Regions from separate parts of the Homo sapiens genome. Here region 1 is linked to region 2. A link means that fine-mapping ties the variant in region 2 to the expression of a gene that starts in the linked region. Tissue or cell type: whole blood. Region 2 holds a variant in brackets; the other region holds the start of a gene. All regions are shown on one strand. Distances are between the middles of the regions. Region 1 holds the start of AZU1 (azurocidin 1). Region 2 overlaps ARHGAP45 (Rho GTPase activating protein 45).

What was found. PIP is the estimated chance that this variant, and not a neighbour inherited with it, causes the effect.
Region 1: AZU1 starts here. The variant in region 2 is the best candidate, but not a certain one, in a credible set for the expression of AZU1 in whole blood (TOPMed, PIP 0.71).

The regions. Positions count from the first base shown.
Region 1 is chr19:825,196-829,575 of GRCh38, forward strand. It overlaps AZU1 (azurocidin 1), which reads left to right and starts at 2,642. Exons shown (of 5, transcript NM_001700.5): 1 at 2,642-2,709; 2 at 3,035-3,191; 3 at 4,367-4,380. The coding sequence starts at 2,652.
Region 2 is chr19:1,076,196-1,080,575 of GRCh38, forward strand. It overlaps ARHGAP45 (Rho GTPase activating protein 45), which reads left to right. Exons shown (of 23, transcript NM_012292.5): 11 at 1,662-1,850; 12 at 3,508-3,645; 13 at 3,733-3,923; 14 at 4,060-4,184; 15 at 4,269-4,352. Among named protein-coding and RNA genes, the nearest start is that of ARHGAP45, 11 kb to the left of the region's middle. RefSeq lists an enhancer at 941-1,080 and a silencer at 1,251-1,340. The variant C/T (reference allele first, on the strand shown) is at 2,103.

The sequences.
Region 1 (4,380 bases), 250 kb before region 2:
AGGTAGGATCCGGGGTGGGCAGAGAGGGAGAGCTGGCTTGGACGGAGGCAGGGATCTGGGGGCTGTGCCATGGACCCTGTGAGGTGGCTGGGCTGTGAAACTCAGTGGAGACCGGAATTATTATTATTATTATTATTTTTTTGAGATGGAGTCTCACTGTCTCCCGGGCTGGAGTGCAGTGGCACGATCTCGGCTCACTGCAAGCTCCGCCTCCTGGGTTCACGCCATTCTCCTGCCTCAGCCTCCTGAGTAGCTGGGACTACAGGCGCCCACCACCACGCCCGGCTAATTTTTTGTATCTTTAGTAGAGATGGGGTTTCACCGTGTTAGCCAGGAAGGTCTTGATCTCCTGACCTCATGATCCGCCCGCCTCGGCCTCCCAAAGTGCTGAGATTACAGGTGTGAGCCACCGCTCCCGGCCTGGAGACCAGATTTGAGCCCTGGGACCCTACATTCCCGATGGGCAGCGGACCTCAAGGCACACCGGCCCCGCCTCCCTGGACTCTCCCCGTATCCGCCCCTTGGAGGGGCAAACTGCCCTCAGAGGGCTCCCACAGGCCCAGACACAAACTGGTGTCCCCAAGGGTGTGGGGGACACGGTAAGCTCCAGACCTCAGTTTCACCTTGGAAATGAGCCCCTTTGTAAAAAATGGAGGTGAGTTTGGACGCAGTAGCTCACACCTGTGCTCCCAGCACTTTGGGAGGCCGAGGCAGGTGGATTGCTTGAGCTTAGGAGTTTCAAACCAGCCCGAGCAACATAGTGAGACTCCACCTCTACAAAAAAATACAAAAATTAGCCGGGCATGGTGGCATGTGCCTATGGTCCCAGCTACCTGGGAGGCTGAGGCAGGAGGATTGCTGGAACCCGGGAATCGGAGGCTGCAGCGAGCTGAGATCGTGCCACTGCACTCCACCCTGGGCAACATAGTGAGATCCCATCTCTACAAAATATACAAAAATTAGCCGGGCACGGTGGCGGGTGCCTGTGGTCCCAGCTACTCGGGAGGCTGAGGCAGGAGGATCAGTTGAACCCAGGAGATTGAGGCTGCAGTGAGCTGAGATGGTGCCGCTGCCCTCCAGCCTGGGCAACAGCGAGACCTCAACTCTGAAAAAAACAAAAGAAGGAGATGAAATTTACATAACTTAAAATTAGCCATTTTGAACGGTACAGTGAAGTGGTTTTCGGTGCATTCACCGACTTGTGCAACCATCACTGCTGTCCAGTCCCAGAACATTCCATCACCCCAAAGAAGGAAGCCCCATCTCCATCCATCAGCCATCACCCCCTGCCCTCCCCCGGCCCCTGGCAACCACAGATCCACTTCCTGCCTCTGCAGATTTGCTTGTTCTGGACATTTCGTCTATTTATTTTTATATAGTTTTTAATTTGTTTTTATTTATTTTTTTTGAGACGGAGTCTCTCTGTGTCACCCAGGCTGGAGTGCAGTGGCGCAATCTCGGCTCACTGCAACCTCCACCTCCCAGGTTCAAGCGATTATCCTGTCTCAGCTTCCCAAGTAGCTGGGACTATAGGCGCCCGCCACCACGCCCAGCTAATTTCTTTTTTTTTTTTGAAATGGAGTTTTGCTCTTGTCGCCCAGGCTGGAGTGCAATGGTGCGATCTCGGCTCGCTGCAACCTCCGCCTCCCAGGTTCAAGTGATTCTCCTGCCTCAGCCTCCTGAGTAGCTGGGATTACAGGCATGTGCCACCACGCCCAGTTAATTTTGTATTTTTAGTAGAGATGGGGTTTCTCCATGTTGGTCAGGCTGGTCTTGAACGCCCAACCTCAGGTGATCTGCCTGCCTCGGCCTCCCAGAGTGCTAGGATTACAGGTGTGAGCCACCGCACCCAGCTTGTCAATTATATCTCAATAAAGCTGTTGAAAAAGTTTAAAAAAATCACCCAATCGGGCACAGTGTTTCACACCTGTAATCCCAGCATTTTGGGAGGCCGAGGTGGGTGGATCACCTGAGGTCGGGAGTTTGAGACCAGCCTGGCCAATATAGTGAAACCCCATCTCTACTAAAAATACAAAAAATTAGCCAGGCGTGGTGGTGGACAACTGTAATCCTAGCTACTCAGGAGGCTGAGACAGGAGAATCACTTGAGCCTGGGAGGCGGAGGTTGCAGTGAGTCGAGATCACACCATTGCACTCCAGCCTGGGCAACAAGAGCGAAACTCCGTCTCAAAATAATAATAATAATAATAATAATAATAATCACCCATACAGACGCGCAGGACTCAACGCAGGACTGCCAGCTCCACTGCCCTGAGCCCCCCGGTGCCAGGCCCAGCGGGCAGTGCTGGAGCCCCAGTGGCTTGGGATGGGGAGACTGGGACTCTGAGCTGGCAATGTTCCTGGGTGCTGGCTGCATGCCCGCCATGTGCTGGGCTCCGGGATCCACTGGTTCCTGACACCCTCACCTGCCCCTGGGGGTGTGGCCATCTTCTAGAGAGGGAAACTGAGGATCAGTGCAGAATGTAGGGGGAGCCCAGGCTGGCCCAGGGAGCAGTTGGCGGTGGAGGCCTTGGGCAATTTCCCGTGTTCCCACTGAGTGGGGCTGTCCCTGGGCCTGGGCGGGGACGCCACCAACTGCCAAGGCCTGTGTATAAGGGCAGCCGCCGCCTTAGCCACAGACCTGCCCCGCCATGACCCGGCTGACAGTCCTGGCCCTGCTGGCTGGTCTGCTGGCGTCCTCGAGGGCCGGTGAGTGCCTCTCTGTGCCGGTGGTCCCCCATCTGTGCTAGGGCCCGGCTGCCAGGGCAGAACTCAGACTTAAAGCACAGAGAAGGCAAGCGGCTTGGCCTGGGTCACACAGCCAGCCCGGCCTGGACGATCCCGCGAAAGGCGTGAGGGCGGACGGTGTGCGGGACTCAGGGGCCCCCTGTCCTCTTAGGGAGTGGGACGATGGGGGAGGGTGGGTCCCCCCGCAGCCCCACTGGGTGGATAGAGCTGAGGCTGCAGCTTCACACGCCCTCCCGGCCACTGTGTGGATTCTTGGGGATCTCAGAGCTGTCTCCCCCCGACCCAGGCTCCAGCCCCCTTTTGGACATCGTTGGCGGCCGGAAGGCGAGGCCCCGCCAGTTCCCGTTCCTGGCCTCCATTCAGAATCAAGGCAGGCACTTCTGCGGGGGTGCCCTGATCCATGCCCGCTTCGTGATGACCGCGGCCAGCTGCTTCCAAAGCCAGTGAGGGGTCCTGGGGAGGGGGCCTAGGGGGCATTGGGGCTCAGAGAAGGGGCTTGGGGGGCTTAGGCATTCAGTGGGGGTGCTTGGTAGGTGAGGAGGGGAGGGGATTGCAAAAGGAGGGGCTCAGGGAAAGGAGGGGGCTTGGAGAGGGAAATGGGGACTGAGTTGAGGAGGGACCCAAGGATATTGGGGGGCTCAGATGGAGGAGGCCCAGAGAAGGGAAGGGGGTCAGATGGAGGAGGCCCAGAGAAAGGAAGAGGCTCAGATGGAGGAGGTGCAGTGAAGGAAAGGGGGTCAGATGGGGGAGGCCCAGAGAAGGGAAGGGGCTCAGATGGAGGAGGGGGCCCAGAGAAAGGAAGGGGCTCAGATGGAGGAGGTGCAGAGAAGGGAAGGGGGTCAGATGGGGGAGGCCCAGAGAAGGGAAGGGGCTCAGATGGAGGAGGTGCAGAGAAGGGAAGGGGCTCAGATGGAGGAGGTGCAGAGAAGAGAAGGGCCTCAGATGGAGGAGGTGCAGAGAAGGGAAGGGCCTCAGATGGAGGAGGTGCGGAGAAGGGAAGGGGGTCAGATGGAGGAGGTGCAGAGAAGGGAAGGGGGTCAGATGGGGGAGGCCCAGGGAAGGGAAGGGGCTCAGATGGAGGAGGGGCAGAGAAGGGAAGGGGGTCAGATGGGGGAGGCCCAGGGAAGGGAAGGGGCTCAGATGGGGGAGGCGCAGAGAAGGGAAGGGGGTCAGATGGAGGAGGTGCAGAGAAGGGAAGGGGGTCAGATGGGGGAGGCCCAGATAAGGGAATGGGGTCAGATGGGGGAGGTGCAGAGAAGGGAAGGGGGTCAGATGGGGGAGGCCCAGATAAGGGAAGGGGCTCAGATGGAGGAGGTGCAGAGAAGGGGAGGGGGTCAGATGGAGGAGGCTCAGAGAAGGGAAGGGACTCAGATGGAGGAGGGGGCGCAGAGAAGAGAAGGGGCTCAGATGGAGGAGGAGGCGCAGAGAAGGGAAGGGGCTCAAGATGGGAAGGGGGCCCTGGAAAGTCTCGGCTCTGCTTCTGTAAAAGCGGGGGAGTTTTCAGGGTGAAGGATTGCAGTCTGCAGGCTGGGATCCCCCCTAATTTGCAAGCCGGCTTGCTCTGTGCCCAGGCCCCAGCCTGGTGTCCTCCCTCTGCCCTTTCCTCCGCTACTCTCAGGAACCCCGGGGTTA
Region 2 (4,380 bases):
CAAGGGGCGTGCGTGTATGAGCTACCCTCCCAGGCCACAGCCCTGCTTTTCCTCTTCTGTGAACCCTCAGTTCTTAACCTTTGCTTAGTTCTTATCCTTTGCTTACTTTGTACTGGACAGTGGCTTATCATTGATTTGTCAGAGCTTTTTACATATTAGAGAACTTAGGCCTTAATCATGTGAGTTTTAGACTCCCCCCATTCCCCTCCCACAATTTACTGTTTGACTTTTGATTTTTACCTGTGGCCTATTTTGCCAGGTAGAAACCTGTGATTGTTGGCAGTAGTCTTTTTTTTTTTTTTTTTTTTTTTTTTTTTTGAGACAAGAGCCTCACTCTGTTGCCCAGGCTGCAGTGCAGTGGATCGATCTCAGCTCACTGCAACCTCCATCTCCTGGGCTCAAGCGATTCTTCTGCCTCAGCCTCCCAAGTAGCTGGGATTACAGGCGCCAGCCAACATGCCTGGCTAATTTTTGTATTTTTAGTAGAGATGGGGTTTCACCACCTTGGCCAGGCTGGTCTCGAACTCCTGACCTCAGGTAATCTGCCCACCTTGTCCTTCCAAAGTGCTGGAATTATAGGCATAAGACACCGTGCTTGGCTAATTTTTATATCTTTGGTAGAGATGGGGTTTCATCATGTTGGCCAGGCTGGTCTCGAGTAGCTAGGACCACAGGTGTGCGCCACCACGTCTGGCTAAATTTTTTAATTTTTTTGTAGAGATGGGGTCTCACTATGTTGACCAGGCTGGTCTCAAACTCCTGGCCTCAAGTGATCCTCCTGCCTCGGCCTCCCAAAGCACTGGGAGTACAGGTGTGACCCATGGCGCCTGGCGGTCTCCTAGTAATTGGATGAGTCCGTTTGTTTGTGTGCGAATCTGATGGTGCAGGTTGTGAGGTGTGGCCCCCGAGCCCACAGGTTTTTGACTAAGTGCTCTTCCTGCCAACCTGTGGGCGCCTGGCTTCCTGCCTGGGCGGCTTCTCTGTTCTCGTCTGTGAGGAGGGAAGTGAAAGCAAAAGAGCCCGGAGACGCTCCCGTGGGGGCTGGTGTGCGTGTCTGCAGAGGCTGCCGTGTGAGCCTCTGTGCAGAGCTTGGCTGCACCTCAGCTTCCCGGGCTGCAGAGTGGGCACACAGGACACCCATTTCTCCGAGTGTCCTGTTACGGGTGCCTCCTCCCGTTCTTTTTTTTTTTTTTTTTTTTGAGCTGGAATCTCTGTTGCCCAGGCTGGAGTGCAGTGGTGCATGCAATCTTGGCTCACTGCAACCTTCGCCTCCTGGGTTCAAGCTGTTCGCGATTCTAGTGCCTCAGCCTCCCGAGTAGCTGGGATTACAAGCGTGCACCACAATGCCCGGCTAATTGTTTTAAATTTTGGGTAGATACGGGGTTTCACTATGTTGGCCAGGCTGGTCTCAAACTCCTGACCTCAAGTGATCCACCTGCCTCGGCCTCCCAAAGTGCTGGGATTACAGACGTGAGCCACCGCGCCCGGCCACTCCTCCTGTTTTTCCGCTGCCGATTGTTGTGCAGGGTCCTCTGCATGCCCAGCTGGGCCATGGGGCCTTGCTGAGAGAGATGGGGGTGGGGAGGAAAGGAGGAGCTGGGGAGACTGAGTCCCATCCGAGGATAGGGTTGGAACTGGCCTCCTGGCTCCCACACCCACAGCAAGAGGCGGAGTCCAACCTGCGCAAGGCCAAGCAGGGTTACGTGCAGCGCTGCGAGGACCACGACAAGGCTCGCTTCCTCGTGGCCAAGGCGGAGGAGGAGCAGGCTGGCAGCGCGCCGGGAGCAGGCAGCACGGCCACCAAGACCCTGGACAAGCGGCGGCGGCTGGAGGAGGAGGCCAAGAACAAGGTGAGGGCGGGTGGAGGCAGGGCTGGAGGTCCCTGGAGGAGGAGATCCAATGCTTGGTGTGACATTTACTACCTCCAGACCTTTGTTTTTGTTTTTTTGTTTTTTTGTTTGTTTTTGAGACGGAGTCTTGCTCTGTCGCCCAGGCTGGAGTGCAGTGGCACAGTCTCGGCTCACTGCAAGCTCCGCCTCCCGGGTTCACGCCATTCTCCTGCCTCAGCCTCCCGAGTAGCTGGGACTACAGGCGCCCGCCAC[C/T]ACGCCTGGCTAATTTTTTGTATTTTTAGTAGAGACGGGGTTTCACTGTGTTAGCCAGGATGGTCTCGATCTCCTGACCTCGTGATCCGTCCACCTCGGCCTCCCAAAGTGCTGGGATTATAGGCATGAGCCACTGCGCCCGGCCAATTTGTTTTTTGGAGACAGAGTCTCATTCTGTTGCCCAGGCTGGAGTGCAGTGGTGAGATCTCACTGCAACCTCCGCCTCCCAGGTTCACACAGTTCTCTGCCTCAGCCACCCTGCCACCAAGCCCAGCTAATTTTTTTGTATTTTTAGTAGACACAGAGTTTCACCATCTTGGCCAGGTTGGTCTCAAACTCCTGACCTCATGATCCACCCACTTCGGCCTCCCAAAGTGCTGGGATTACAGGCATGAGCCACCGCGCCCGGCCCCGATTTTTAAATTATTATTATTTTTGAGACAGTGTCTTGTTCTGTCACCCAGGCTGGAGTGCAGTGACGTGATCATGGCTCACTGCAGCCTCTACCTCCTGGGCTCAAGCAATCTTCTCGCCTCAGCCTCTAGAGTAGCTGGGACCACAGGCGTGTGCCGCCACACCCAGCTAATTTAAAAAAATTCTTGGCCGGGCGCAGTGGCTCACGCCTGTAATCCCAGCACTTTGGGAGGCCGAGGCAGGTGGATCACAAGGTCAGGAGATCAAGACCATCCTGGCTAACAGGGTGAAACCCCGTCTCTACTAAAAATACAAAAAATTAGCTGGGCGTAGTGGTGGGCGCCTGTAGTCCCAGCTACTCGGGAGGCTGAGGCAGGAAAATGGCATGAACCCGGGAGGTGGAGCTTGCAGTGAGCCGAGATCGCGCCACTGCACTCCAGCCTGGGCGACAGAACGAGACTCTGTCTCAAAAAAAAAAAAAAATTCTTTATAAAGATGGGGGTCTCAGGCTGAGTGTGGTGGCTCACACCTGTAATCCCAGCCCTTTGGGAGGCTGAGACGGGCAGATCATATGAGGCCAGGAGTTCGAAACCAGCCTGGGCAACATGGTGAAACCCCTGTATCTCTACTAAAATTACAAAAAATTAACCGGGTATGGTGGGTGGGGGGCACCTGTAATCCGTTACTTGGGAGGCTGAGGCAGAATTGCTTGAACCCGGTAGGTGGAGGTTGCAGTGAGCTGAGATCGTACCACTGCACTCCAGCCTGGCCTACAGAGCAAGACTCCATCTCAAAAAAAAAAAAAAAAAGATGGGGAGGGTCTCACCATGTTGCTCAGGCTGGTCTCGAACTCCTGGCCTCAAGCAAGTCTCCCACTGTGGCCTCCCGAGGCGCTGGGATGACAGGCGTCAGCCCCGCCTCCCTGAGGTTTCTGTCTGAGTCCTGCACCCCGGGCTGAGGCCTCTCTCTGTGCGCCCCGCCCCCACCGCAGGCGGAGGAAGCTATGGCCACCTACCGCACCTGCGTGGCCGACGCGAAGACGCAGAAGCAGGAGCTGGAGGATACCAAGGTGACGGCGCTGCGGCAGATCCAGGAGGTCATCCGGCAGAGCGACCAAACCATCAAGTCGGTGCGTGGGGTGCTCCGGCCGCCCGGGCGGGGATGGTGGACCGGGCGGCCTCCTCCTGACCCCTCCGCTCTCCGGTGCCGCCCGCAGGCCACGATCTCCTACTACCAGATGATGCATATGCAGACGGCGCCGCTGCCCGTGCACTTCCAGATGCTGTGTGAGAGCAGCAAGCTGTATGACCCAGGCCAGCAGTACGCCTCCCACGTGCGCCAGCTGCAGCGGGACCAGGAGCCCGATGTGCACTACGACTTTGAGCCCCACGTCTCCGCCAACGCCTGGTACCGCCACCCAGCTGCCCTGTCCCCGGCGCACAAGGCCCTGCCTGGGAGCCGGGCTTCCCTCTGTCGGGGGCATGAAGATGAAGCTGTCTTGCCCCCCATCACCTCCCCTCCTTTTCCCGGTTTCTTCCACTAGGTCCCCCGTCATGCGTGCCCGGAAGAGCAGCTTCAACGTGAGTGATGTGGCGCGGCCGGAGGCTGCCGGGAGCCCCCCAGAAGAAGGCGGGTGCACTGAGGGCACACCTGCCAAGGACCACAGGGGTGAGTGTCCGGCGGGGCCCAGGGGCGGACGCTGGCTCCCTGCGACCCACCCTGGCCCTTCACCAGAGACGCCTCTTTCTCCAGCCGGGCGAGGACACCAGGTTCACAAGTCATGGCCGCTCTCGATCTCAGACTCGGACAGTGGGCTGGACCCCGGCCCTGGCGCAGGTGAGGGAGGCTCTCTGGCGGGCTGGGG